6 linked regions of the Homo sapiens genome follow. The protein of the gene in region 6 interacts with the protein of the main gene of each other region in a pairwise test. Each region holds a gene or a part of one and is shown on either strand. Other genes may lie near its edges. The genes, in order: DDO, MLH3, MUTYH, BMP2K, PDGFRL and BAAT.

The links.
Region 1: the proteins of BAAT (region 6) and DDO come close enough for resonance energy transfer, tested with the Homo sapiens proteins (one large-scale study listed by BioGRID).
Region 2: the proteins of BAAT (region 6) and MLH3 interact in a two-hybrid assay, tested with the Homo sapiens proteins (one large-scale study listed by BioGRID and IntAct).
Region 3: the proteins of BAAT (region 6) and MUTYH interact in a two-hybrid assay, tested with the Homo sapiens proteins (one large-scale study listed by BioGRID and IntAct).
Region 4: the proteins of BAAT (region 6) and BMP2K interact in a two-hybrid assay, tested with the Homo sapiens proteins (one large-scale study listed by IntAct).
Region 5: the proteins of BAAT (region 6) and PDGFRL interact in a two-hybrid assay, tested with the Homo sapiens proteins (one large-scale study listed by BioGRID and IntAct).

What each region holds. Positions count from the first base shown.
Region 1 is NC_000006.12:110,391,576-110,395,075, reverse strand, and holds the end of DDO (D-aspartate oxidase), read left to right. Parts: intron 1-1,733; coding exon 1,734-2,301; 3' UTR 2,302-3,292; downstream 3,293-3,500. UniProt on the Homo sapiens protein: Selectively catalyzes the oxidative deamination of acidic amino acids. Suppresses the level of D-aspartate in the brain, an amino acid that can act as an agonist for glutamate receptors. Protects the organism from the toxicity of D-amino acids.
Region 2 is NC_000014.9:75,034,468-75,037,967, forward strand, and holds part of MLH3 (DNA mismatch repair protein Mlh3), read right to left. Parts: intron 1-3,500. UniProt on the Homo sapiens protein: Probably involved in the repair of mismatches in DNA.
Region 3 is NC_000001.11:45,329,971-45,333,470, forward strand, and holds part of MUTYH (adenine DNA glycosylase), read right to left. Parts: coding exon 3,443-3,500; intron 3,355-3,442; coding exon 3,315-3,354; intron 3,201-3,314; coding exon 3,127-3,200; intron 2,990-3,126; coding exon 2,948-2,989; intron 2,865-2,947; coding exon 2,793-2,864; intron 2,718-2,792; coding exon 2,604-2,717; intron 2,519-2,603; coding exon 2,421-2,518; intron 2,341-2,420; coding exon 2,196-2,340; intron 2,117-2,195; coding exon 2,053-2,116; intron 1,880-2,052; coding exon 1,691-1,879; intron 1,587-1,690; coding exon 1,450-1,586; intron 1,365-1,449; coding exon 1,212-1,364; intron 588-1,211; coding exon 546-587; intron 99-545; coding exon of another isoform or gene 96-98; exon of another isoform or gene 1-95. UniProt on the Homo sapiens protein: Involved in oxidative DNA damage repair. Initiates repair of A*oxoG to C*G by removing the inappropriately paired adenine base from the DNA backbone. Possesses both adenine and 2-OH-A DNA glycosylase activities.
Region 4 is NC_000004.12:78,908,850-78,912,349, reverse strand, and holds part of BMP2K (BMP-2-inducible protein kinase), read right to left. Parts: intron 1,741-3,500; coding exon 317-1,740; 3' UTR 1-316. UniProt on the Homo sapiens protein: May be involved in osteoblast differentiation.
Region 5 is NC_000008.11:17,622,216-17,625,715, forward strand, and holds part of PDGFRL (platelet-derived growth factor receptor-like protein precursor), read left to right. Parts: intron 1-3,500.
Region 6 is NC_000009.12:101,368,007-101,371,506, forward strand, and holds part of BAAT (bile acid-CoA:amino acid N-acyltransferase), read right to left. Parts: intron 3,458-3,500; 5' UTR 3,399-3,457; coding exon 2,933-3,398; intron 317-2,932; coding exon 114-316; intron 1-113. UniProt on the Homo sapiens protein: Catalyzes the amidation of bile acids (BAs) with the amino acids taurine and glycine. More than 95% of the BAs are N-acyl amidates with glycine and taurine.

The sequences.
Region 1 (3,500 bases), on a different chromosome or scaffold from region 6:
ATCAAGTTGACACATAAATTAACCATAGCAGGTCCAAACCAGGATTTCATATTGTCTTTAGTATTGGCTAACACTTACTTCCAGTCCACTTGGTGTGGGGCACTTAGCTAGGTCATAGGGATGGTAAGAAACATAAGATACAGTCTCTCCCCTTGAGGAATTCGTGATTTATTGATATCGGTCCTCTAAGATGTATTGTGATTGACGACTGTTCAAAGTTGTGGCCATTATTTTATTGTAACCTCACAACCATCCTGTGAGACAGGCAAGGGAGGTATCCTCCCCATGATGCAGATGAGGAAACTGAGATTTGAAGTGAGGTGAGTTGGCCAAGAGCTCAAAGCTAATGTGAGGCAGAGCTGGGATATAAAGCCAGGCTTTCTGATTTCACACCACTTCTCCTGTAGAACTTAGTCCATTCTGCCAAGCATTTACACTTCTGTCTGCCAGTTCCTCTGTCAGCCCTTGACGAAGGGCACTGTCACTCACACCCTTCTGGTCCCTCTTAGCAGTGCCCCGCATGCAAGCATTCGGCCTGCGTCTATTGAACAGAGCTGCTGATAGTCTCTTTCTCTATTCTACAAGTGACCTGTGAATAAGATTACATGTCCTGGGGGTTATTGTTTATTGGGTAGACTTTCCATTTTGCAAGATTAAAAAAGTTCTGGAGGCCAGGCACGGTGGCTCATGCCTATAATCCCAGCACTTTGGGAGGCAGAGGCAGGTGGATCGACTGAGCTCATGAGTTGCAGACCAGCCTGGGCAACATGGCAAAACCCTGTCTCTATCAAAAATACAAAAAAATTAGCCGGGCATGGTGGCACACACCTGTGGTCTCAGCTACTCAGGAGGCTGAGGTGGGAGGATCACTTAAGCCAAGGAAGTCAAGGCTGCAGTGAGCTGAGATCACGCCACTGCACTCCAGCCTGGGTGACAGAGTGAGACCCCATCTCAGAAAAAAAAAAAATATTCTGAAGATGGATAGTGCATATGGATGGTGATGGCGGTTGCACAACAAGGTAAATGTGCTTAATACTACTGAACTTTACACTTAAAAATCGTCAAAATGATAAATTTTATGTTAAGTGTATTTTACCTTGATTTAAATAAAGACTACAGGTACTGGATAAACCATTTCTTTTCACTATTGATATAGTTGGTCCAAAAAATATAGTAATTACCAACCACAGCTGCCATTTAGCTCATCAGCTACAAATATTTTGTGTTCTTCTCGTGCTAACATAGTTGTGGACATAAAGCTGGTGGGGATATGACCCCTGTACCTTTTAGTTAGGGAGACCAGGCTAATACAAAGGATCATGCAAGAGTTAACAATATGAGATAAAATGTTTAAGGTAGTAAATTTAGGTGTTAAATAAGTGGTATAAATAAGAAATGCTTGGACATTTAAAATACCAAATCAACTTGGCATTTATTCAGCATCTAGAATAATGTAGGAATTTTACAAAATTTTAAAAGGGCAAAGCATATAATTTCCTTTGTTTTGAATTTTCAAGTGGTTTCCATTTAGATTCAACTTTAGAAATCCCCAGTTCCTAGGATGTGAAGCAGTTGATGGCTAGAATTTGGCCTGACTGGGCCCTGGAAGCTCCTGAGGTGTTTGTTCATCAGATCATCACCTAATTTTTGTTCCTGGGTTCCTTTTCTTTATTTCCTGGAAGTAGTTGATCAGGTCGCTAACAAATATTCACTTCATGGCCTCTCTTCCGTAGGATAAAGGGAAGTGGAGGCTGGACACTCACTCGGCGAATAGAAGACCTGTGGGAACTTCATCCGTCCTTTGACATCGTGGTCAACTGTTCAGGCCTTGGAAGCAGACAGCTTGCAGGAGACTCAAAGATTTTCCCTGTAAGGGGCCAAGTCCTCCAAGTTCAGGCTCCCTGGGTGGAGCATTTTATCCGAGATGGCAGTGGGCTGACATATATTTATCCTGGTACATCCCATGTAACCCTAGGTGGAACTAGGCAAAAAGGGGACTGGAATCTGTCCCCGGATGCAGAAAATAGCAGAGAGATTCTTTCCCGATGCTGTGCTCTGGAGCCCTCCCTCCACGGAGCCTGCAACATCAGGGAGAAGGTGGGCTTGAGGCCCTACAGGCCAGGCGTGCGACTGCAGACAGAGCTCCTTGCGCGAGATGGACAGAGGCTGCCTGTAGTCCACCACTATGGCCATGGGAGTGGGGGCATCTCAGTGCACTGGGGCACTGCTCTGGAGGCCGCCAGGCTGGTGAGCGAGTGTGTCCATGCCCTCAGGACCCCCATTCCCAAGTCAAACCTGTAGATGACATAAAATGACAGCAAAGAGACTGAGAGACTGTTGATCAAAGCACAGAACAGGTTCAAATAACTTTTCCACTGCATGAAAGTTTAATTAGACATTTCTTTGTTTTCAACATTAGAAGTGGTGTAACATGTAAGCTGAGCACGGTGGCATGCCTATAGTCCCAGCTACTTGAGAGGCTGAGGCAGGAGGATTGTTGAGCCCAGGAGTTTGAGTGCAATCTGGGTAACATTTTTTAGAGGTGCCAGTTCCCACCTCTAAAAAAAACACCAACAACAAAAGAAATGATGCAACATGTAGGCTTACTTAGGAAGTCCAGCATTAATGGCATAGGGCATAAAGCTCTATTTTTTGTTAAAAATACTTCTTATAGAGTAAAATTTATTTAGAACTGATGTCCAAGGACCTATGCAGATTTATATGAATGTTGGAAGCTATAGAGATTTTGATATCATTTGGCTTATAAATCCACAGGAGGAGATAATGTATGGAAAACATTTAAATCACTGTCAATTGCAGAGCTGCCTGTGATCTTCTTAGGTTATAGCCAAGTCAGCAACATAATTCCTCTAAATAAAATTACATTGTGCTCACACAGTGCTGGATTATTACATTTAATTGAAGACAAAGCATGCTTGCTCCTAGTACTAGCAGCAAGCTTTTCCTCCCCTCAGCTGGTAATGATGGTAGGAGACAGAGATGAAGTTGCCTATGTATGTCATATCAATTCAATAGCTGCCTGGGGTCAAACACCTAGGGGTTGTACATTCCATTACTGTAAATGATTGAGAGCTGGTTTGTGGTATGGTTGGCTTTGCCTAAGCATTTTTGAAGATGAACAGCATGTGCAGCCAAAGAACTAATTTGCTAATTAAGGTGGAACAATCATTCTGAATGAAATATAATCAGAGTACTCCGCAGTTTGTTAAGAAGTATTGGGGAGGAGGGGAATGTGTCTCACAATAAAATGAGTTGGAATTGTTGAGTTAAATGAATTTAACCTGTTTTTTGACTCAGGCCTACTCAGAGCCTCTAATGTGTGCACGTGTATTGTGAATCCTCTAGAGAGCTTGGGTGGACGGAAAATGAAGTGCTGGTATTGAAGTAAAGAGGCTTGAGGAGGCTGGGCACGGTGGCTCACGCCTGCAATCCCAGTACTTTGGTGCAATCCCAGCACTTTGGGAGGCTGAGGTAGGTGG
Region 2 (3,500 bases), on a different chromosome or scaffold from region 6:
TGTCATGCCTACTCAACAATTCTTTTTGAGCCAAAGCAGCCATAGACAATATGTGAATATCGTAGCTGTGTTCCAATAAAACTTTATTTATGGACACTGAAATACTAATTTCATATAATTTTAATGTGTCAAGAAATAGTCTTCTTTTTTTTTCCCAACCATTAAAAAATGTAAAAACCATTCCCATCTCCCTGGCTGTACAGAAAGAGGTGATGCCCAGATTCCCCTCGGGCCATGTTTATCCTGCCTTAGACTTGGGCTTCTCAAACGTTCATATCACATACCCCCTGGGGATCTTATTAAAACACAGATTCTGGCTGGGCCTGTGGCTCATGCCTGTAATCCCAACACTTTGGGAGGCTGAGGAGGGCAGATCACTTGAGGTCAGGAATTCAAGATCAGCTGACCAACATGGTGAAACCCTGTCTCTACTAAAAATACAAGAATTAGCCGGGCGTGGTGGCAGGTGCCTGTAGTCCCAGCTACTTGGGAGGCTGAGGCAGAAGAATTCCTTGAACTCGGGAAGGGGAGACTGCAGTGAGCCGAGATTGCACCACTGCAATCCCACCTGGGCGACAGAGCAAGACTCCATCTCAAAAAAAAAAAAAAAAAAAAAAAAGTAAAGAAAAAAAGAGAAATTTCAACAGATCCATTTTGCTTCTTTCAACATCTGCAGATTTTGTAGTTACACCCATCTTGAGTATCATTAGTAGAGATTCTGATCTCAAAAACAACAAAGAATTCCAGATAATGAAAACTTAAAAAAAAAATTGGCCAGGCGGGTTGGCTCATGCCTGTAATCCCAGCACTTTGGGAGGCCAAGGCGGGCGGATCACCTGAGATCAGGAGTTCGAGACCAGCCTGGCCAACATGGAGAAACCCCGTCTCTACTAAAAATACAAAATTAGCTGGGCGTGGGTGGCGGGTGCCTGTAATTCCAGCTACTTGGAAGGCTGAGGCTGGTGAACCGCTTGAACCCAGGAGGCGGAGGTTGCAGTGAGCTGAGATTGCACCATTGCACTCCAGCCTGGGCAACAAGAGTGAAACTTCGTCTCAAAAACAACAACAACAAAAAACTATTACTTTTCTAGAAATAGTAAAACTATAGGAATTTGATCTTCACAAATTCTATATTCATGATAATTCTGACAGAACTTTAGGTTAATTTGCCTTTGATCTGCTATGACATTTACTAAACAAGGTAAAGGGAATATTTTGAAATACATAGAGAATAAATGCTCTAAAACTTTAGCACTTGCCTGCAGGTACTATCAAGCTGGAGCCAGCCCTCCACTGCTGCTCAGGGCTCAGCCACTCAGGCCTTTTCAGGGACTTTATCCCATCAGGCATCCCTTGCAAATGTGCTCAAGTTTCTCCCATTAAAAAAAAAAGGTCCTCTGTCACCCTCACCCTCTGTAGTCCCTCTTCCGTGTCATGGGCACATTTCTGAGTATCTCCTTGCAGTCTCCATTAGCACCATCAGCATCTCGTCCTGTCTATTCTCTGAAACAGCTCTCACTTGCTAAAATCCCTAATCTCTACTGTCACAAAATCAGATGATCCTCATCTTACTTAATGTCTTGGCAGCGTTTGGCATGACATCCTGGTTTTCCAACATAACATTCTTCTGTTTTCTTCCTATTTCTCTAGCTGTTCTTTCACAGTCTCTTTTGCTGGTTCATCCTCTTCTACCGAGCTCTTAAGTGCTAGAATTATTCTAGATTCAAGACCTCTCCTCACTCTTCTTTTTTCTAGGTGATAACATTTATATCCAGGGTTTCAGTGATCACTTTTCTGCATCTGATGGCTCAAATTTGTATCTCCATGTCAGAACACTTGTCTAGGCCAGACTTGTAATATCCAACCACATTCTTGACATCTTTTTATTTTATTTTTTTGACAGAGTTTCGCTCTGTCACCCAGGCTGGAGTGCAGTGGTGCGATCTTGGCGCACTGCAACCTCCGCCTCCCGGGTTAAAGCAATTCTCTGCCTCAGCCTCCCGAGTAGCTGGGATTACAGGCATCTGCCACCATGTCCAGCTAATTTTTGTATTTTTAGTAGAGACAGCGTTTCAGCATGTTGGCCAGGCTGGTCTCAACTCCTGACCTCAGGTGATCCACCCACCTCGGCCTCCCAAAGTGCTGGGATTACAGGCGTGAGCCACCGTGCCTGGCCACCTTGACATCTCTTCTGGAGCATTTCAAAGACTGAACTCATGATTTTCATCCTCTCTGCTCTGCCTGCAACACGGGTCCTGCAACATCATCAACTCAGCTATGGAGGCCAGAACACCAGAAGTCATCTTTTACATACTTTCCCCATATCCAATCCATCACCAAGCCCTGCTGACTCTATCTCCTAAATATCTTTCCAATACATTCACTGCTCTCTAGTCCACCCTGGTCCCATCTAACCATGTCTCAGATATTGCAATATTCTTTTAACAGTCAATCTACAGTTAACTGGGACTCCACCCCTACTCCTACTCCATTCTCCACACTACAACCAGAGCAATCTTTTTAAAATGCAAATGTGATGTGACATGTACCACCCCAAAAACAACATCAAAATACAAATGATAAAAAATGAAAAAAAAAAGCTTTCAATGGTTTCCAACAGTATTGGGACAAAGCAAAGCTTGTAGCTGGCATTTAAGATCTGACTCCTACCTACTTCTCTAGCCTCATCTCCAGTTCCCCTTGCCCTGTTTCCACTCACTGAGGAGAATAAATCACAAATTGCATGGTTGTTCCCTCCTTTCTTTACTTAGTTAACTCATATTCATATTCAGACCTCATTTTACCAAGAAGCACTTCCCTGAACTCCCTGATGAAATCAAATCTCCCAATACAGGTTCTTAGAGCATCTTGTATCTCTTTCTCCATTACAGGGGCTAGAACTAAAATTTTATGTTTGTGTAATTATTTTTTTCTCTTGCATATATATCTTTTCTCATTATTGTATCCCTAGGGCCTGGTACAGTCCCTGGCATACAATGGGCACTCAATTAATACTTGTTGAATGAGTTAATATATTTACAAACTATTATTGTTTCATTAGAGCAGGTCACCAAGAGATTCTGTGTAAATATTGACAAACCTAGCAGAGTTCATTATATACACTTTCTATTATTATAAAGGGAAAACATGAAAATATTATTAAAAAGTCAAACAATAGAAAATATTTAAAAGAATAAAAGATGGGCTGGGCGTGGTGGCTTACACCTGTAATCCCAGCTGTTAGGGAGGCAGAGGTGGAAGGATAGCTTAAGCCCAGGAGTTCGAGACCTACCTGGGCAATATAGCGAGACCCCGTTCTCCACAAAAAGGAAAAAAAAAAGACAAAAAGAGTAAAAGTTGAAATATCTCCTTTGCACACCCTCATTTTCACTCCCAAAGTAAATACTCTTGATAGTTTAATGTGCATCCTGAGTATATGTATGTGTATGAACATAAAACTAAATGTCTGTCGCCCAGGCTGGAGTGTAATAGCGCAATCT
Region 3 (3,500 bases), on a different chromosome or scaffold from region 6:
GCCTGTAATCCCAGCACTTTGGGAGGCCAAGATGGGCAGATCACTTGAGGTCAGGAGTTCGAGACCAGCCTAGTCAACATGGTGAAACCCTGTCTCTACTAAAAATACAAAAATTAGTTGGGTGTGGTAGCAGGCACCTGTAATCCCAGCTACTTGGGAGACTGAGGCAGGAGAATCGCTTTAATCCAGTTGTGGGAGATTGCAGTGAGCCGAGATCGGGCCACTGCACTCTAGCTTGGGTGACAGTGAGACTGTCTCAAAAAAAAAAAAAAAAAAAAAAAAGAACTGATGGCTCCACAATTCATATCCCACAAAACTCAGTACAGGCATTTCACACACCTGTGACACTGGAGAGTCCTCATCATTTTTTTCCTTTCCCTCTACCCTGCACCCCACAATGGAAGGTCTCCAGGTCAAGAACTATTCCTCCCTCCAGTGAAGCCTGGAGTGGAGAATGTTCACCCAGACATTCGTTAGTTAACTGACTAAAAACCTATGGACTCAGGCCTGGGGAGACACGGTTGGGAGAGGCCTAGGAGACTTACCATACAGGTCCCTGGCTGTTGGCCCTGATACACACGGAAAACCTAGACAAGAAGACAGGGAGGTGAGGGCTGGCACTTTTTGCAAAAGAGATAAACCGGTGTTCTGCCCTTAACTTCATGTCCCAGTACTTTTGTTTAAAATATGCTTTTTTGGCCAGGCATGGTGGCTCACGCCTATAATCCCAGCATTTTGGGAGGCCAAGTCGGGTGGATCACTTGAGGCCAGGAGTTTGAGACCAGCCTGGCCAACATGGTGAAACCCCATCTCTAAAAATACAAAAAATCATGGCTGGGTGTGGTAGCTCACACCTGTAATCCCAGCATTCTGGGAGGCTGAGGCGGGCGGATCACTTGAGGTCAAGAGTTGGAGACCAGCCTGGCCAGCATGGTGAAACCTCATCTCTACTAAAAATACAAAAATTAGCCAGGCATGGTGGCGGGCGCCTGTAATCCGAGCTACTCAGGAAGCTGAGGCAGGAGAATCACTTGAACCCGGGAGATGGAGGTTGCAGTCAACCGAGATAGCGCCATTGCACTCCAGCCTGGGCAACAGAGCGATTCTCCGTCTCAAAAAAAAATGCTTTTTTTCCTGTTTACACAGTAATATATTCATGTAGAACATGTAGGAAACACAAGGAAGTACAACAAAGACAACAAAGGTAGTGCCTTTTTCATGGCGGTGGAAACAGCTGCGGTGTGAAATTCCTCCTGCGTCAGCCAGCGAGCACCTGGTGGTACGGTGGTCACTGGGGTCTGCCCTTCCAAGGCCAGCCCATATACTTGATATGTCAGCTTGATGTGAGAGAAGGTGTGGACAACCTGGAGGAAGGGTCAAGGGGTTCAAATAGGCCTGTGGATATAGCCTCAAAAGCCAACATCCTTGGCTATTCCGCTGCTCACTTACCTCCCCAAGGTGCCGGAGGTGCGTGGCTGGGAGGGGCCCAGCCCAACGCTGTAGTTCCTGCAGCAGGGCCTTGCGCTGAAGCTGCTCTGAGGGCTCCCAGGTCACGGACGGGAACTCCCACAGTCCTGCCAGCAGACCTGAGAGGGAGGGCAGCCAGGCAGGGGTCAGGCCTCAGCTGCCGATTCCCTCCATTCTCTCTTGTTACTCATGCCACTGCCCTCCACGCCCAGTATCCAGGTACCTGAGTTGGGCCTCTGCACCAGCAGAATTTGGGCCCCAAGGGCCCCAGGCTGTTCCAGAACACAGGTGGCAGAGCTCTCCTCCCTGGGGGGCTTGCGGCTGGCCTTTCTGGGGAAGTTGACCACTCCCAGGGTCTGGTCCCAGGGCTCCGAGGGAGGCAGGCACAGGTGGCACTGTCCAGTGTTGGGAGCTGGGAACGGAGATCCCCGAACCCTACTCAAGCCAAGAGGGCTTTAGGGGCCAACCTAGAGAGTGGGCTTTGGCCGGGTTCTGCAGAATCTTACTCAGGTTAGAGGAAGAACTGGAATGGGGCTTCTGACTGGGCCAGGAAGGGTTGGGGTGGGGGCTAGGTTTGGTGCTCACCACACTCCTCCACGTCAGGACTGCCCGACAGGCTCCCTGAGGCTAAGAGCTGTTCCTGCTCCACCTGAGAGGCACAGGGTTGAGTGTCATAGGGCAGAGTCACTCCTTAGGACTTCTCACTGCCCCTTCCCCAGTAGGCTTACTCTCTGGCGTGCCCGGCACAGGCTCTCCACAGGGCACTGGCTGCACAGTGGGCGCTGTGGGGTACACACTGTGGCCCCTAGCTCCATGGCTGCTTGGTTGAAATCTCCTGGCCGGGCTGGGTCCACCAGCTGCTGGGCTAGACCCCTAAAAGAAGGGAACACTGCTGTGAAGCAGAGCTCCTTTGCAGACACCCCTGAAGCACCCTTGTTACCCCAACATCCTACCAGAGCTGCTGGGAAACAAGGGTGCTGCTGGGATCAGCACCAATGGCTCGGACACGGCACAGCACCCGTGCTACGTTGCCATCCACCACACCGGTTGCCTGGCACAGAGGGGCCAAAGAGTTAGCCTGGGCTGGGAGGAAGGAGGCTGGGCACGCACAAAGTGGGGGTGGGCTGTGAGATCACCTGGCCAAAGGCGATAGAGGCAATGGCCCCAGCTGTGTAGCGCCCCACGCCAGGCAGGAGCTGCTGCAGGGTCTCTGCTGTACGTGGCATGTGGCCCCCTAGCTCCTCTACCACCTGATTGGAGTGCAAGACTCAAGATTATAAGACACCCAAGACTCCTGGGTTCCTACCCTCCTGCCATCCCCTTACCTTCCGAGCTCCCTCCTGCAGCCGCCGGCCACGAGAATAGTAGCCCAGGCCAGCCCAGAGTTGATTCACCTCCTGTGGGTAGGATCAGAGGTCAAAGAGATCACCCGTCAGTCCCTCTATTGTTCCTATTTCCCCTACCCTAGGGTGGCTCTCACCTCCAGGGAAGCACTGGCCAGGTCCTGCAGTGTAGGCCACTTCTATAGCCACAGGCAGGCAGAAAGAGACAAGGTCAAGGGTGAAGGTGGTAGAGGAAGCCTTCTCTACACCCACCCCAAAGTAGAGGCTCTCATCTGGGGTCTGACCCATGACCCTTCCCTTCCTCCCCTGGAGTCACCTGCATCCATCCGGTATAGTAGTTGATCACAGTGGCAACCTGGGTCTGCTGCAGCATGACCTCTGAGACCCACACTGGGGGAAAGGGGTTGGCATGAGGACACTGCTGACCTGCCCCTACCTGGCCCACAGCCCCCAGACCCAAGGGCCTCGAGGCAAAGTGGCCCTGCTCTCAGGAGATGTACTGACCAGCATATGCCCGCCTGTCCAGGTCCATCTCATCTTCTGCCTGTCAATGCAACCCCAGATGAGGAGTTAGGGTGGAGGGGGCTGGGTGCCTGCCTCCCACCCACTGTCCCTGCTCCTCGCCTGCCTACCCGTCTTCTCCATGGTAGGTCCCGTTTCTCTTGGTCGTACCAGCTTAGCAGGCTCCCT
Region 4 (3,500 bases), on a different chromosome or scaffold from region 6:
CTCAGTGGCTACACACCTAGAAAGGTGCCATGTGCTTTCACTGGAAGTACCACACTTGCATTTCTGTGTTGTGATGTCAGTAGCAGAAACCCTTAGTTAGAGCTTGCAATTTAGCTCCCTTTTCTCCTGAAGAGGAATCAAGTTACTACCCTGTAGAGATACTTCATTCTTCTATTTGGTTTATTTAGAAATCACCTATTCTGACTGATCTTTAAGAATGAATGCTATAAAGAGCTACCAAATTTTCTTTCAAATTCATAAAACTGTTCACACTTTTTTGAAACAGGAGTTAATGCCGAGAATCCATCAGAAGTATCTACTGTTTAGAAGGAAATGGAGCAGCACCAAATGGGTCTAATTCGACTGGTTGGGACTGTTGGGACTGATGTGGAGTGATGCTTTGCACCACAAGTTCTGTAAAGGGCACGGCACCAAAATCATCCATTTTCAATACATCTGCACTATGGAATGACCCATGTAGTGAATTTTGTCTTGGCCGCCCTGGCAGGACAGTATTGTGATCAGCACGGATGTCGCTCAGGCCCTGATGTGGAGGGTGCCATGACAGGTCTGGAGAATGGAAGGGCTTGGCACCGAAGGGGTCCAACAGGCTCTCCTCAGGTTGTAAGACATTCCCCCTATCTTTCCCATCAGTCAGTGCAACACTAATGTTCTCCTTGGAGTCTGAGATGGTTAAAAATTCATTGCTACTTTGAGAGTCTCGGCGGCCCACTTTTTTGTGCCTGCGAGCCCTCTCTGGAGTGCGATAGGTAGGCTTCAAAGTCTTCTTTGTGCTAGTTGGCGTGCCATGATGCCGCTTCCCATTACTTTTGGACATATCCTGCTTTGTGCGCCTTTGGCGAGAGGACAGTTTCTGTAAGCTGCGCTGTTTGACTTTTTGCTGCTGGCTCCCCGTTATTTCATCAAAGGGCACAAGCCCAAAAAGGTCCTCATTGCTTTCACTTTTACTTGTTGATGTGAGGAAGGGCTGAAATGGAGTGGAGCCAAATACATCTACACTTTTGGGATAACCAGGGATAGTATGTGCCTCAGGCCCCACTGCATGGCATTCTTGTACATTCACCTTCTTGCTAAAAGGCGCCTTTGTGAATACATCAAATTCCTCCTGCTCCAGTCCTGCAGCAGGAAACCTGTGTTGAGGGAGGTTCTTTTCATTCTTTTCTTGCTGGGGCTGTTGAGCACGCACTGCAAAGAAGGGGACAGCGCCAAATACATCAAACTCCTGTTTGGGAGTCTCCACTGCAACATCAGAGGATAATTGGGCTGAGGTGAGGAGTATTGTATTAAGATCTTGGGTTGGTCCACTGCCAGATCTGTCTCTGTAGACAGAGCTCATGTCACTGTACTTTGCTTTAGCCTGCTCATAATCAGAATCAGAGCTATGTTTCTCCTCTTCTTCCTCATCTTCAGAATCCATGAGGAGAGGCCTATGACCCAGATTTTCTGGTTCAGTATCATCATCATTAAAATCTCCTTGTTCCCCCTGAAGAACTTCTTCATCATCTTGCTCTTCCTCTTCACTGCTCTTAGGAGAAGGGGGATCTGATTCAAAATCACTTTCAGATTCATCATTCCCCTTTTGCACTTGACCCTGTACTGAGGTTTTCTTTCCAGTCCGCTGATCTTTAGATGCTGGACTTGTTTTACCGTTCTTGATAGGGTTTGCAGTGCCATTTTCTTGATTTATAGATGAATGTTCAGCTTTCTTTTCAGGAGAACCTGCAAGTTCAAATAAATATTATTACAGCATTCCAATGCATTTCAGAATCCTCTTGCACTAAATGTTAATATGTATTACACATGGCATTACAAATCCCTCATACGAGTTCCCTTAGAGGAAAAAATAATGTTGTCAATTCTTCGTCATTAGACTTAGAGAATGCATTTGACCTCAGGTAGATAGTTAAGTCTTAATGTAGACAGACTTATTCATATCTGGACCCTACACCCTGCCTCATCGTACTCTCACTGACAGCCAAATTTTATTTATAGCACACAGAATGTAGTAGACTAGCAAATTTTCTTCACCCCACCACCAAAATAACATTATTCTGCTAATTCTGAAAGCTCAGATTTCACATTCACCAAATACCTCCTGCTTATATTTCAACTCTTGTAAAGTTTTCCCATAGAGATCAACAAGCATGAACAGCCTGCCTGCTCAGTTACGTATTTGTTTCACTATTTTTTTAAATCAGCATTGTATTTTTTATAAACCACTATCTTTTGAATTGACTTAGCATGAATGGCCTCACCAAAGCTAAGGACCAGATACTAAATGGAGACTGTACCAAAAACATCTGCCTTCTCTAGATGATATGACTTCCTTTAATTATAATATCTATACATTACATTAAAAAAGCGAGATTCCTTTAAAAACAAATCTAAACCATCTGGAGATGTTTTTAGCTCAGAATCCATTCAGTCACTTCATTTTCTGAGTTCATTCAACGAAAGAAATATAGGGCACTTTGCTATACACTGATTATACATTGGTGAGTAAAAGAAACATGGTTTCTGCTTTCAGGGGTTTACAGTCAGAGGTTGTAAGTAAACATAAATTGTGACTAGTGCTCTGAAATAAAGGACAGCAGGGAAATGGGCGCATAAACCTACTTTGGACAGTGGTGAAGACCTCCCTAAGGAGACGACAGTTAGGATTGAACAATGAGAAGGAGCCCAGCCATGCAAAGGATAAGCTGGAAGCAGCTTCCAATAAAAGCAATGGCATATATAAAGACATATTTAAGGGGCTGAAAATAGGCTATTGTGGCTGGAATATAGTGAGCAAGGGAGGATCAGGTACAACATGAGGTAAGGAAGACTGGAAAAGGCCAGACTGTGAAGGTCCTCTAAGGCCATGATAAGCAGCGTATATTTCATTATACATCTAATTCAAAATTCCATGTATAATGGAAAGCTATTATTAAAATAGGTGTCATGATTAGGTTTACATAAAAAAAAATGACTGCTCTATAGAAAAACACTAAGGGGGCTGGGTGCGGTGGCTCACCCCTGTAATCCCAGCACTTTGGGAGGCCAAGGCGGGTGGATCACGAGGTCAGGAGTTTGAGACCAGCCTGGCCAACATGGTGAAACCCCATCTCTACTAAAAATAGAAAAATTAGCCAGGCATGTTGGCAGGTGCCAGCTGAGCCAGGAGAATCGCTTGAAACTGGAAGACAGAGGTTGCAGTGAGCCAAGATCGCACCACTGCACTCCAGTCTGGGCCAAAGAGCGAACTGTCTCAAAAAAAAAAAAAAAAAAAAAAAAGACTAAGGGAAGGTAAGAAGGGGAGTTCAGGCAAAAGGAAATTATAGTAATGCAAGTTAGAGATTTTGGTGGCCTAGATGACATGACAGTGGTGGCAGGGTGGGTCAAAGTAGAAAAAATAGAGATTGAAAACTCTTGGTGGATGGCAGCACCATTAACAGAAAGAAAAGAATGAGTGGCGTGATAGAAACCCATTTACCCTGATG
Region 5 (3,500 bases), on a different chromosome or scaffold from region 6:
TGAAGTTTAGGGGATGAAGTTCTCCAGCAAGGTTCAGAAGTCAGTAAGAGCTTTCAGGAATCTTACAAAGCCACCCTCGTCCTATTGTCGTCCAAGACATTTCAGGTGAAACCAGAATCCTTTGTTAGTGCCTGGGCAGGGACTTTCATGAAATTTCTCCATGCCTTGAATCCACCTACCTTTCAGACGTAGACCTAGACATAGGCCTAGACCTAGACATAGGCCTATGACCCAAAGGATGTTATGCCCTGACCATTAAAGAATGTTTTAGTACAATCTTATGTATTTGTCCTTTCCTGCCCAAATAGCTCCTCTCTGGCAAGGAGATGCATTAGTAGGGTATGCTGCAGTTCTGGAAGCACATGTATCTCATTTTGATGCAGACTTTTTACTCCTTAGTTCAGAGATCCAAGTTCTTGTCTCATGCCAGGAAAACTTAGGCACACAGACACTTAAAAGAGTGCGTGGAGTAGAATTTATTATGCGAAAAGGAAAGCTCTCAGCAAAAAGAGGGGTCCTGAAAGCAGGTTGCAGGTTGCTCTCCACACAATTGAATACAAGGGCTTCTATGTTCCCTCGGTAGGGCTGGGTTCCCTGTTTGTAAGAGGCGTGAATTCCTGGCGGCTCCACCCCATCCTTTCAGTGTACCTGCAGGCCCTTAATCTGAGTCACTCCACGTTGATTTATTTCCCTTACTGCATGTGTGTTAAGGGATGGAATTTTTCACTGGGGGTATGTTTAGGCAAGACCCCTGTGCACAATGACCTTGGTAGGTCAGAGGTTCTCTAAGGACATTCCCGTATCTGCTTAGGAGAGTTCTCTGCCTCCTGCCTCTATCAGTTTCATTCCACAACATCCCTGGGAAATAAGCAAAAGCTATTTTATTATCTCCAAAATACTAGAAGTACTAATGCTCATGCTGAGCCTCAATGTTCCAGGACCTGTAGTGGCACAATAAGGAGCCAAACCTGTTTTTCTGACCCAGGATCCAGTGTTTTTACTGCCTTGAACCTTTTGTAGGACAAGGTGAAGGATGGACTGATAGCCAGATTCTAGCTAGCATAACTGGTGTTGTCAGGAGAATTGCTAATAATTGTTCATAGGCAATCTCTTTGGATCTTCATTTTGGAACTCGCTACACAAGATTGTAAATGTGCCCTTTGTATTATACCATGCTGTGAAGCAACAGTGGAAAAAGCAACCAACTAAGATGAATAAAAGTCTGTTATTCAAGTCAATGACTGATTCCACATTTCAAGTTGCAGAAGGAAGATTCTTTGCCAAGATTAGCACTGTTGTGTCTTCCCAAAGTATTGGTCGAGGTTTTGAACTGCAGGCTTAGCTTGGGCAGAATATCCTATTAATATTATGGGCTCTTGGCCAGGCATGGTAGCTCATACCTGTAATCCAGCACTTTGGGAGGCCACGGCGGGCGGATCACCTGAGGTCAGGAGTTCGAGAACAGCCTGGCCAACATGGAGAAATCCCATCTCTACAAAAATACAAAAGTTAGCTGGGCGTGGTGGTGCACAGTTGTGCTCCCAGCTGCTCAGGAGGCTGAAGCAGGAGGATCGCCTGAATCTCGGAGTTGGTGGTTGCAGTGAGTCAAGATTGCGCCACTGCACTCCAACCTGGGCGACAGAGCAAGACTTTACCTCAAAAAAAAAAAATACGGGCTCTCTTTGAGTTTTGGAGGCGGAACCTTTTTGTTTTTTTTTTAACTGAACTAATTTTGGGAACCAAAGAAAAGCTAAAATATATTCATTCCAACTATCAAGAAACTTTGATCAAAAAAAATAAATGCTGTAACACATTTGACCTAATGTGTTATACATCATTTATTTTTTCTTATTTGTCAACACTAAGCTAGGAGTCCAGTTGGATTTTTACTATAGGGTTTGGCAATTTGTCTTTTCAAGCATGGATGGCTTTGAGAAACCAAGATGGGCTGTTACAGAAGCTGAGGTTCTCACTGCTGGCTCAGGATTCTTTCAGAACATGTGTTTCCTGGCTACCCATGTGGAGAAATGTTTGTCATTCATTATGTTTGTATGTTTCCTAGAGTTTGATTAAAAACACTGAAGCTTCTTTTGGGGGACTGACTGTTGTTAGTGTGCAGTTTGTGATTAAATAATTGCCGTATGTATTTCCTCTTTCATCTTGATCCAGGAGGATCTTGGAAGGTTTTCCCTGCTTCTCTTTCACTTCTTATTGTAGTATAACATATGTAAAGAAAAACATTCAAATTCTCAGAATACAGCTCAATAAATTATCCTTAAGCAAACAGGCACATGTAACTCCCACCCAGATCAAGGATGAGAACATTACCAGCAGCAGAGCTTTCTCATAGTAAAAGGCTGAGGCTCTAATTTTTATACGTAGGAAAACCACATTAATAAGTACTTTCCTGGCTGGGTGCAGTGGCTCATGCCTATAATCCCCTAGCACTTTGGGAAGCCGAGGCAGGCGGATCACTTGAGGTCAGGAGTTCAAGACCAGCCTAACCAACATGGCGAAACTCCCTCTGTACTAAAATGCAAAAATTAGGTGGGCATGGTGGCACACGCCTGTAATTCCAGCTACTCGGGAGGCTGAGGCACAAGAATTGCTTACACCCAGGAGGCAGCGAGTCAAAGTTGCAGTGAGCCGAGATGGCACCACTGCATTCCAGCCTGGGTGACGGAGTGAGACTGTCTCAAAATACTGAATTTGTTGTAATTTGGATTTAGTTTATAGCTTGTTAACTTGCATTTATTTATTTTTTTATTTTTATTTTTATTTATTATTATTATACTTTAAGTTTTAGGGTACATGTGCACAATGTGCAGGTTAGTTACATATGTATACATGTGCCATGCTGGTGTGCTGCACCCATTAACTCGTCATTTAGCATTAGGTATATCTCCTAAAGCTATCCCTCCCCCCCCCGCATTTTTTTGTTTTTTTGTCTTTTTTGAGATGGAGTCTCCCTCTGTTGCCAGATTGGAGTGCAGTGGCACCATCTCAGCTCACTGCAACCTCCGACTCCCCGGTTCGAGCGATTCTCCTGCCTCAGCCTCCCGAGTAGCTGGGATTACAGGCATGCGCCACAGTGCCCAACGAATCTTTGTATTTTTAGCAGAGATGGGGTTTCACCATGTTGTCCAGGAGGGTCTCGGTCTCCTGACCTCATGATCCGCCTGCCTTGGCCTCCCAAAGTGCCGGGATTACAGGCGTGAGCCACTGCACCTGGTCGAGTTTTTTTTTTTAATCTAAAATCCCATGTGTTTAGTTTTCTTTAAGTAAAACATTTGTCTTCTAGATAAGTGGATATAAATACATTTGCAGGGGACATGTGTAATCTATAATTATTAAAACAAACTTCAACACTTTGTTATTGTTGATGGAAGCTACGGATTGCAAATATATTTTTAAAGCAACTGGTTTGGTCACATTTCAAAGTATGTATTATAGTATAAGAAGTAAAGTATATATTATAGTATAAGAAGTAAGGCTGGGAA
Region 6 (3,500 bases):
ATGCCACTGCACTCCAGCCTGGGTGACGGAGCAAGACCCTGTCTTTTAACAAAAACAAAAACAGAAACAAAAAAACCCCAGGGACTCAAACCTACTGAAAAGACAAAAATTACCTTTGGATGTCTCAGGAGAAAGTTGGCAGCCTCCTCAAAATATTCCAAATCTGTTACTTCTGGTTTGCGGGGCAGGTCTTCATAGTTATGGTAAGCCAAGGCCAAGGAGGCGAAGCCACGACTGGCTAGGAGGCTGGCCCGAAATTCAAGCAGCCCACCCAAACCACCAAACAAATCAATTACCCCTGGGAAGAGACCCTCTCCTGAAAAATAACAAAACAGAATTGTACATGAAGAGAAGGTGTGGAAAAGATAAGAAAACTTGAAAATACAAAGCAGAAATACAAATGATTAGATAATAAAAGATAAAATAAATAAATAAAAGATAATAAAAACATGAGAACACAAAGCAGAAATGCAAAATTACATTCAAATGTAATTTTGAAATTAACATTTAAATATTCAAATACAATTCCAACACTTTCAGCCTTCTACCTGGGGCAGAATTAAGGTCCATTGAATATATAATGGAACACAATATCTAGACGTTTGACTAGGAACTACATTCAGAGACATATTTACTCTCTGCAGCTGAGGAAATGGGAATTCACAGTAGTTTCTATACTCTTGTTGTAAAGAAAGGCATATAAATTAGGCCAGGGCTTCTTAACCTATAAAGAAGTATACAAATAAGCTTTAGGAAATCTGTGAAGATCCTGAAATTACAATATATGCAAAATATGGTATATATATATTTGTAGGTGAATTTTACTTATGAGAGGTTCCACAGATTTAATTTGGTTCTCAAAGAAATACATGATTCAAAAACATTTTTTAAATGATTGTATTAGCTAAAATCCTGACTTAACACTGCTCTGCTACATTCATTTGACTATACAGTGATGAAACCTTACACCTAAGCTTATGTAAATGATGAGCCCCTTTATTCAATAACGCCATGTTCATTTTTTGCAGGCTGACACGTGGTAAAAAGTAGGGACGGCCAGAGTATCATTCTACAGTCACTCTGTATAGGCAGCTTTTTTCCAAAATAAAGCAGAGCCCACACACTGAAAGAAACTTACGATGCACTTATTAGGGATATTCTATTCTTTTATAAGTGGTTTTAACTAAGACAGAGTGATCCCATCCATATTTGAAAGAAGTGGCTTGATTTAAAGGAGTATTGGGAATTTTTAAAAATTACTATAATTAAGTACAATGAATAAATAATAAATAAAGTGAAGTTGAATATATCTTAGTTTTAAATTATCATTTGCATAAATGAATAAGGATGTTTTTACCATCTGATTGACAAGAATGGGGGAACACTTAAAAGTACTGAGTCTTTTATCTTGGAAGAATGTTACAGTCATGAAATATTTGTGATCTGACTCAACCTCCTTATAACCTCACACAACTCAGCTCTCTTTTGTTCCCCCGATAGAAAACACACTTGAAGCGGGAGACCCAGCACATGCAGTGTTCAAGAGGATTCACAAACAGCACACCCTAAACCAGCACATCATCCCAAGATGGAAGGCCTGTACCAATAAGCAGATTTTTAACTGGGGTGGGATAATAGAGGCACAGCAATTTGTGCCATTTAATTCTTGGTCCCTATACATAATAAAGTGGTCTATATGCTATTTACTGGGTATTTTAAAAACTCAAATTTATCCGAACAAGTACATGGGTTATGGTGAATTTGGAAAGGAAAGCTTTTATTGCTTTTTTTTCTTCTGAGAAATTAACTTTGCTTTATTTGGCCCCACAATAAACTCTGAGAAATGTACCAAAACATGTTTAAACCACTTATTTATTGGTATTTGGAGATTTCTGTGGGAAACTATGAGCGTTCTGATAAGTTTTATAGCCATTAGGAAGCATGCTATATTATTAGATTCATGGAATAGTCTATAAATATGTAATATTTATGAAGCTAGAGGTTACAAAGTTTCTTGCATCCTCTATATTTGCTGCAATCTTTCAGTCCATCTTATCTCCAGCTTGTTGTGGCAACAAGGTAATAACCCATGCCTAAACTGAAACTCAACCTGACAGAGCCTGTACAAGGATCTGGGATATGGTTTCCATCACATCAAGATGAGGGTCTTCATATAGCTATAAGATTAGAGCTATAAGATAAGGCTGAAGAAGTATGCAGAAGTCAGATCATAGAAAGTTTTGTCTAACATTTGTTCATCTTTGAGTGCTTAGTATTGCCAGGTTCTATGATAAGCATTTTGCATGCATTATCCTTTTTTTTTTTTTTTTTTTTTTTGCTTTGTCACCCAGGCTGGAGTGCAGTATCAGGAACATGGCTCACTGCAGCCTCAATCTCCGAGGCTCAAGAGATCTTTCCTCCTCAGCCCCTGCTGAGTAGCTGGGACTACAGGTGCCTGCTACCACACCCAGCTAATTTTTTAGTATTTATAGAGAAAGAGTTTGGCTATGTTGCCCAGGCTGGTCTTGAACTGTTGGCCTCTATTAATCCTCCCATCTTGGCTTCAGTGCAGAAAAATTTAGCATAAATCCAAAGCTATGTAAAGCCCATAATGTAGGGACTACATAAACTATATGTAGTCACATTCTTAGACAAGCTTCAGAATTGTTGAGATGAAACTTGAGCTGGAGTAGAATATTACCACATTCTTGTTCAGACCCAAGGTTAACATTGATTGTAAGGCAGGAAGCAGTGCTCTAGGTATTATCCATATTCAAGTTAAATTTCTGGAGGGATAATGCATTTAAGGTGGAAAAACAATAATAACAATAACCAGAGTAATTCTACAAGCTATTCAAGCTAAATTTCTAGACGGATAATGTATTTAAAGTGGAAAAACAAGAATAACAATAAGCAGAGTAATTCTACTCACCTGGAGGGAGAAAGAGAGCTCCTCGAAGGCGGCCTTCTCGAACCTTAATTCGTGTGACACCAGGTGCCACATACCACCTCTCCAAAGTCAGGCTGGCCTTTGGAGCACTGGCAACTTTATTGTTCACTATTAACTCTAAGTCATAAAGTTTTACTTGGACCTGGAAAGGCCTATTCATCACATCTCTTTTCAACAGTCTTGTTAATAGCTTTTCAGGTTTCAGAGACCAGAAGAGACCCATGGGGTGGACTCCCATATAATCCCCTCCAAGTGAAGAAGCATGATTCAGGTCCACCTCACCGAATTCATTGGCCCTATAGTGGGCTTGAGAATAAAACATGTCTCCGTTTTCATCTTCCAGTGATGCCTGAAAACTCACCATCTGAAAGGGAATCAGGCCTGTAGCTCGGATATGCACTGGCTCATCAACAAGTGCACTCACAGGGGTAGCTGTCAACTGGATCATTTTTTTAGTGTGGCACCTGGGATGATTCTTCAGGAATATCTTCAGCAAAACCTCAAAACCTCAAAAAAGAAAGAAAGAGGAGCAGTAAAATAAAGTAGAGAT